2 separate regions of the Homo sapiens genome follow, and region 1 is reported to be linked to region 2. Evidence: microRNA targets listed by miRTarBase, many of them from high-throughput screens and not tested one by one. Region 2 holds a microRNA gene; the other region holds the end of a gene's coding sequence. Distances are between the middles of the regions.

Region 1 (4,067 bases), 78 Mb from region 2:
GCTCAGGCTGTCAGCAACACAGGCCTAAACAAAGCTTTGCAAGTAAGCCAGCAGCCATCAGTGTCATGCCTGCCTTTCTGCTTCCTAGGGCCTTTAGCCCCACAAGACCCTGTGATTATTATCACCCACCATTCCCAGGGGTAACGCTGCCTTATCTCTTTTGCTAGGAGGTCCAAACCGGCCTGTCCACATCTGCTAGGGGAATCTTTCCCCACTAGCTGTACACTCAACAGAATGGCCCTACACGGTCAGCAGGACCCCTGGATAGGGGAGCATCTCCTTGCCTTCCCCATGTTAAACGGGTTTGCTGACATGGCGAATACATTGGGGTGTCTGGACAGTGAGATGACTCTGGGTAGAATAATTCCAAACCATCAAGTAAGGCACAGCAAACTCTCTTGGGTAGCCAGAAGCCTAGCAGGTTTCTATCTGGAAGAAATAAAAGGACTTGTTGATGTGGTGAAAGCTCACCCTTGCCCAGGCTAACGGTTTTGAAATCACATCTGTTTGTATAGGTGATCAAGGAAGCATCTATCTTCACTGAGCCATCTTAGTCCCCCTCAGGCTTAGCTCAGCTATCACCTCTACCAGAAAGCCTGTCCTGACCCACTTCTGCCCAGGTTGGGAAGCTCCCGTGGGGCCTCGTCTAGGAGGAAGGTTCTCATCACTTGTCTGGATTCCGGGGTTGGACCGCCTGGAGGCCCAACACCTCAAGGCCCTGAAGCGGTACCCGGGCAAACACCGGGCCCCAACACTGCAGTCACTCACCACTGCAAGTGGAAGGTGTGGCCGCAGTGGATGGCGGCCACGTCGCGGGAGTGATCGAAGAAGTCGGAGCAGATAGTGCACAGAGCACGGATAGGCATGATGGCTGGACTCAAGGGGCCCAGGCAGCCAAAGAAACTGCTACAGGTCCGGCTTCGTAGACGCGCCCCCGCGCCTCCGCTTGCTTCAAATTTGGCTCCGCAGCACGACTTCCTGGAGCGGGCCGGAAGTGACAACACAAAACTTTGGGCGGAGCGTGAATACTTCGCCTGGATTGGACAAATTCTCGGATGGGCGGAACTATGGGCGGGGCTTAGCGGCCCCGAGGCCGTAGAGAATCCTGGGCGGAGCGCGGTCGCTCTCAGGCGTCCTCTGGGGAGACTCGACCTGCCACTTGAGAGCGCAGCATTATATCAAGGCGGGGAGCAGCGAGGCTGCCAGCTGGACCCTTTTCCAGGGCAAGGCAGCGCATTGTGGTCCCATGCCAGAGCTGGCGCGAGGCAGGCTGGGCCAAGGCAGAGAAAACCGCAGCCGCAAGGGAATAGAACAATGGTCCCGATGGGTCCCTTGGGCTCTGGACAGTGATGGACCATGCGCTATGGTCTGTAGTTCCCATAGACCACAATACCCTACCCTCTCAGTCCTCAGTTCCGGGCGATTCTAGAAAGATGGACACATAGGCCCCAGTCCCTCAGGTCACCCCAGGCCAACCTTGGCTTCATCCAAGTAAGATATGACTATCCTTGAGTTTGGAGACACTAGGGCCAGTACCCTGACTTTAGCTCTTAGCTCTCAGGAGGATCAGTTATGCTTGAGACTGTAGTAGGGTTGGAATTTTGGAGGCCCAGATGCTTCAAAGACTAGAGACTAACAAATCCTTTTTATTATTCCCACATCAGAGAAGTTATCTTTGAGGAGGTTATCTTTGAGGTCCTCCCAGAGAGCAGCATCCCTGGTGAGTTCACCCAGGCCCACCTGGGCTGGAGTAAGTCAACTTTTGGGTTTTTAGGCTTAGTATCTGTGGCAGTGTTACTCCCTCTACCCAGAAGAAACCCTGTGCATAGTCCCATAATATAAAGCTGATCTGCTCCAGCTGAAATAGACCCAGAGTGAGATTTCATTTGGGGCATAGGTGGAAAGCACAGGTGTTCACAGAAAGAAGGAATCAACACAGAGCAGCATAGAATCTTTGTGCATTGCTCACCCTACACCCTCTCCCTAGCTCAGGGAAGCTATCTTTGGCTATGAGCAGGGTCTGTCCTTGCGGTGGCTGGCCCAGGTAGATTCCAGCTCTATGCCTAAATCAAGAGTAAGGCTCCTCGGTCAACAGGAGTCAAAAACAGCAGCCCTTACTTGAGCTCTCAGCCCAGGGAGTATTCCTTGGTCCAAATGCAGCCCAAGACCCACTACTCACATGGATTTCTAGAGTTCAGAGGACCCCCACCACCACCACCATTGAGGAATACACTGTGGTGAGGATGATCTTCACCCTCAGCCCAAGAAATCCACAGGGCACTGTTCACTACTACTCCCAGCCACTACTTGTGAACCTGCTCCCAGCCTCTCCCTTCCCCACTGCCTTCCAGGGGCTCCTCCCCAGTAGGACAGAGGAAGCAAAGGCGAGAGGGTGGCCAGAGGCTTTGCAGGGTGATGTTTATTTGCCAGGTTCAGTAGGCACACAGTTAACCCACCGACCTTCACACACCAGAGCAGACCCACAGGCATGCAGGGAGAAGGGCAGGACCACCACGGAGTGCCGAGCAAGGGCGAGGACCAATGTGGCTGCCTATCCAGGCTGTGGTAGGGTCTGACAAAGGGCACCTGTCAGGAGCCTCCCTCAGGAAACTGGGGAGTTTAACCCTACTTCCTCATCCCAGAAAAAGCAACTCAATGTGGCTCTGAGGCACCTGGGCCTCTGATAGAAGTGAGCTGTAGAAAGAGGGAGTTCCTCTTCATTTCATTGTTGAACTGAGCAGAAAATCTGCCCCTGTAAAGGGCAAACCTCCAAATCAGATTATGAGTTATTGCCATGCAGCAAGCCCCCTAGGGTGGAGAGGACTTGTGGGCTGAGATTGTAGGAGGTGGGCATCTAGGAAGAGCAAGGAGGTATCAGCCCTCCCTGTTTGGCCCAGGGTAAGGACCCAGTAAGGCTGGGACACTGGGTGCTGGGCTTGTACTCTGCCCTGCCAGGTCTCATTGCCACGTCCTAATTGTTCCTCCTTTCCCTTAGAGGCTCATGAGGTTCAGGGTACAGGGCAGCCCACTGCAGGACTCGGAAAGGCAGGAAATAACACAAATAACAGGGTCTTAGGAAGGACAAAAATGGAAGCTTCTGCCCTCCTACTCATTCTCTCCACTCCTGAGGACCTCCACAGCTAGTGAGCAGTATCCCTAGCCATGTGCCAAGTCTGGACTTAAACATACTGCCCTACCTTTCTGCATCCTCTATACCAGCCTGTATCTGCTCCTAGAGCAGCCCACACACCACAGGCACACACCTTCATGTGCAGGAGCCTAAGACCGCTGACAGGGCCTCGCTGGAGGACCAGCTCTCAGGGCAAGGCCGCCCAAGTTTAGGGCCTGGGAGAGTGTGGGACCTGCAGGGCCTGCCTAGGGGAATGGTGAGGCAAGAAGGGAAGGGGAAGGAGAGCAGGAGCCCCCTGAGTATCCCTAGAGCAGCATCCCACAAGGAACAGAAACTGGTGAAGCTAGCAAAAGACAGAAAAGCCACAAGGAATCCATGCAGGGGCTGGGGCCGGCCCTGCCACTGGCCTGCCCACCACTCACACACATACACACAGGAGACGAGACTGCTCTCCCGTGACCCCTAGTTATGCCCCACTGGGATGTGGGGGCATGGGGGAGCGAGGGCATCATGCCAGTGACTCTATGTACAGTGAGAAGCCCCTCATCCACTCTCCCACCCTCCTGCCCATCCCCTGCCCCCCCTCACCAGGCTGCCTACTCAGCTGGCCTCCTCCCTTTGAGACTCCTGGGCATAACCAGCAGCCTCTTCCCCTTTACTAGAGGGTGGAGCCTGGCCTGTGGCGCCCTCTGGGGCTGTGCTGTCCGGCTGGGCCATAGCCGGCTCAGGGGTGGCAGCTGCCTTGGTGGCCAGCATGGCACTGCTTTGGGTGGTGGGCACAGTGCTCTCTTCTGTGGCTGGTGTGGCTCTCCCATCAGTGGCTGGAGTAGCGCTCCTGTCAGTGGCTGGGGTGACACTCCCATCAGTGGCTGGAGTGATGCTTCCATCGGTGGCTGGGGTGACACTGCCATCAGTGGCTGGGGTGGCACTTCCATCT
Region 2 (4,067 bases):
AGCAGGGGCACCACCTGGGAGCCTGTGGGAAACACAGACTGTTCAGCCCTACCCCTGCCCTTGGGAGCAGCATCTGCATGTTAACAACACCAGGGTATTTCCCACATCAGGTCTGAGAAGATAGCTCTAGAACAAGCCTGGTGCTCTTGACCCACAGGTGGAGAAGCCGAGGCCTGGAGAGGGGCACCTGGCAAGTTGTTGACTGGGGGCCTGGGCTCTGGAGACAGACAGCCTGGATTGCTGGCCTGGCAAGTGGCTGCCCCTCTGAGCTCCACGTGCACAATGCGGATAACATAAGTACCTCCCTCCCAGGGTTGGAGGCCAGGGCTCAGAGGTTAGGCACAGAGGTTACTACGTTGTTGGCAGGGGAGTGGGGGCAGGCAGAGCAGCTGACACCTCCTCTGTGTTTCCTCAGACCCCACAGCAATGGGGGCTTCACAAGAGGTCCATGGACCTGGGAACCAATTCCTTTCCCTCCTTGCCCTTCAGTCTCTTCTCTGGTAATCCCAGCAACTTGGGAGGCTGAGGTGGGAGAATTGCTTGAACCCGGGAGGTGGAGGTTGCAGTGAGCCGACATCGCGCCACTGCACTCCAGCCTGGACGACAGAGCAAGACTCTGTCTCAAAAAAAAAAAAAAAAAAAGAAAAGCAGCAACCACCTTTGTACATGTGTCACTTTTGTAGATGTTTACATCCCTGGTTTTGTTTGATCCTTACGGCACCCTTATTAGGCAGATGTTGTCCCCATGATACTTGGAGGGGGAGTGACTCACCCCAGGTCACACAGCAAGCACGTGGCAGAACCAGCAGTGCAGCCCCGTCTTGTTGACTCCAAAATCTGTGTTAGCTGGAGGTTTTTCACTGGTGAATTAGAGAAGTCAGACTCAAACTGGCCTAGGCAGAAAAGGGGATTTGTTGGGTTTTATAACTGAAAAGTCCAAGCGGGTAGGACTGGCTTTGGATGTGGCTGAATCCAGGGGCTCCAGTGAGCTCATCAAGATCTGTCTCCATCCGTGTCTCAGCTCTCCACTCCTCCGCGTCGGCTTTACTCTGAGGCGGGTACCTGAGCGTGAGGTCAAGGTGGTACAGCCCTGACTTACTGAGCTCAGCAGAGAGTGTTTCCTCAATTGTCAATGAGAATCTGCCCTGAGACTTTTGCTCTAATAATTTATTCTAATAATAATTTAGATCAAAAGCCTCAGGGCAGATTTTCATTGGCCAGGGTGATGGAACATCCTGACTAGCCAGACTTAGATCACAGGTGCATTCCCTGGGTTGTGAAGGGTTAGTCACGCATCCCTAAACTTCCAGAGAGTCTAGAGTCTGGGAGCTGAGTTTCCACCTCAGGAAAACGGTGCTCTTACCAACTGGCAGCAGCCTGGATGCTGGGCAGGCAAAACCAGAAGCCCACCCCGCCCTCCATACCCTGGACTCTGCCTGACTCCCCCACTCTCCTACTCCCTGCCCCTGTTCCTCCCCACTGGCCTCTGTGCCTCAAGGGGCCTCTCAGCTTGCTGGTGACTGCTGGGTGCCTGGCCTGCACCCTGGCCCTGCCCGTCTTGGGGCTGCGTGACATTCCATTCTGGGTCAGAGTTGGTGCTGGGCTGCTAGGACCAGGCGTTCACTCTGCCTGGCTTGGCTTTATAATAGGGGTGGGGATAGCTGGTCATGGTGGCCCACACCTGTAATCTCAGCACTTTGGGAGGCTCAGGCAGGTGGATCACTTGAGGTCCAGAGTTCTAGACCAGCCTGGCCAACATGGCAAAACCCTGTCTCTACTAAAAATACAAAAATTAGCCAGGTGTGGTGGTGCACACTTGTGATCCTAGCTACTTGGGAGGCTGAGATGGGAAGACTCCTTGAACCCAGAAGGCTGAACTTGGGAAGCAGAGGTTGCAGTGAGCTGAGATTGCACCACTGCACTCTAGCCTGGGTGACAGAGTGAGACTTTGTCTGAAAAATATATGAATAAATAAATAATGGGGTGGGGAGGAGAGGGCTGTAGAATCTCCCTCCTTCATCAGGTCACTGATACTCTCAACTCAAAGTTACAAGTTATTATCTCATGCCACCAGAAGTCATGCAGGAGGCGCGCTGCACACCCGCTTCCAGCTGTAAGCTCCTGCATGCTCAGCGTGGTGGCCCAGTCCTCCAGGGGTGCAGGAAGACAGTTCTGGACACCCCACACAGGCACAGATCCCCCCATGAGGCATCACATGCCTTTGCCTCAACCAACTGCTGGCCAGGAGCAGAAGGGCCACCCTTCTTGACTTCGACCAGAGCCACTCTGCAGGGCATGCTAGCTGTAGGGGAAGACAGTTAGTTACTCATTTGGCAGACTGTCCTATGCATTGCAGACATTTGGCAGCCCTGGACCCTGCACACAAAAAAATCCACAGTCCTCCATTCCCTAGCAGTTGCCATGTCAAACTAGAGCAGTGCTCCACACCGGCTCCACCCCAGAGACCATTGGCTGAAATTAATGGAGACTCAACTTCTGGTCCTGGGGAGGGGCCCCTGCTTGAACACTAGGTTTTATGGAGGGATCCTGAACAAAATAGTAGCTTGTTAGTGAGGAAGAAGGGGACAGTGTCTGGTGGTCAGTGTTGGCCTCAGTTGCAAAACATCCAGTGACTCAGGCCAGAAACTGCACCATCAGCCGTCTTTGGCCTCTTCTCTCATTCCCTGTGTTTGATCTGTCAGTGGGTCTTGTTGGCCAAGCCTCCCAAAGGTCTCCCAAGTCCCTCTGTTCCACCTGCACTGCTGCCACTAGTGCAAGCCTCTGTCCTCTCATGCATGGACTGTTGCAGGAGCTCCTCATGGCCTCCCTGTCTCTGTTCCTCCTCCACTTCAGTCCCTTTTCACTGGCATCCTGTCCCCATGGAAACCAGACCTCTCACTCCTTGTAACACCCTTCTGGTTGCACTTAGAGTGAAGTCGAGTTGCATGTGGGACCTGGCCCTGCCAACCTTTCTGGTATCAGCTACCCTGGCCTGTTTTTTGCCCTTGGGACAGGCCAAACCTGTTTCTACCTCTGGACTTGTGCATCTGGATCTTAGGTGATTCTCCCTGGAATGTTCTTTATCTCGATCTTTCCAAGGCTGGCTCCTGCTTATTTATTGAGATCTCGGCTCAAAATGTCACCTTGTTTGACTACCCAGTCCAAGCAGTACCTTTATATTCATTGGGATTTGGGCTAGCTGTTGAAACAAAGGCTAGGATAATAAAATAGATTATTTTTATCTATGCAGGCAGCCTCTGTGCAAGCTGTCCAGTACATGCACGGAGGCCTCATTGTGCTGGGGACCCAGACACCTTCTTTCTCATTGCTCTGTTACCCTCGTACAGGGTTTCTGCCTCGTGGTCTGAGGAGGCTGCTCTTGCTCCCACTGTCGTATCTATATTCCAGCCACCGGGAAGGGAGGAGGGCATGATCTGAAATTAGCAGACCTCACTCTGCTCGTGTCATATGTTTATAACAAAAAAAAAGTTCTTTTTAAAGACAAGTCAGGGTTTTTATCTTTGTTGGGCCTCTGTTTTAGAGTTTATGTCTTCACACCATGGGATTAGATCAAATGACAGGCTGAAGGACTGTCAGCCTGTCTCAGCTCGTGTCCAGTTGGATAAAACTCAGCCACATGGCCACACCCAGTTGCAGGGAAGCTGGGAAAGGTCCCCATTGTGCTGGGAAGCGATGTGTAAGCTAAACTCCATTGGTTCCATCACTAAAGGGAAGGGTAGATGTTGGGGGAACCCAGCAGTCTCTACTGTGTTTCTTGTCATTCTGCTCCACCTCTCTGTTTTCTTCACTTAGCATTTATCTCTAGAAGTTTGCTTCTTTTTTTTTTTTTTTTTTTTTTTTTTTTTTTTTAGACAGGGTCTCACTCTGTGGCCCAGCCTGGAGTGCAGTGGTGTGATCATAGCTTGCTGCTGCCTGCTGCCTGGAGCTCCTGGGCTCAAGTGATCCTTCCACCTCGGCCCCACCGAGTAGCTAAGACTACAGGTATGCACCACCATACCTGGCTAGTTTTTTAAACTTTTTGTAGAAATAGCGTCTTGCTGTGTTGC

Evidence for each region. Region 2 holds the annotated microRNA hsa-miR-7976 (UGCCCUGAGACUUUUGCUC, at 1,142-1,160, shown strand). A microRNA usually pairs through its seed, bases 2 to 8, with sites in the 3' UTR of a target mRNA and lowers its output. Matches are read on the target gene's strand: a 7mer-m8 pairs with bases 2 to 8, a 7mer-A1 pairs with bases 2 to 7 and ends in A, and an 8mer does both.
Region 1: miRTarBase lists CAMKV as a target of hsa-miR-7976. Seed matches in the 3' UTR shown: 7mer-A1 at 2,945-2,951.

The regions. Positions count from the first base shown.
Region 1 is chr3:49,855,588-49,859,654 of GRCh38, forward strand. CAMKV (CaM kinase like vesicle associated) reads right to left here. Exons shown (of 11, transcript NM_024046.5): 11 at 2,402-4,067. The coding sequence ends at 3,731. It overlaps TRAIP (TRAF interacting protein), which reads right to left and starts at 977. Exons shown (of 15, transcript NM_005879.3): 1 at 769-977. The coding sequence starts at 866.
Region 2 is chr3:127,584,251-127,588,317 of GRCh38, reverse strand. MIR7976 (microRNA 7976) reads left to right here and starts at 1,142; the gene lies at 1,142-1,207. All of the region lies in intron 1 of TPRA1 (transmembrane protein adipocyte associated 1), which reads left to right.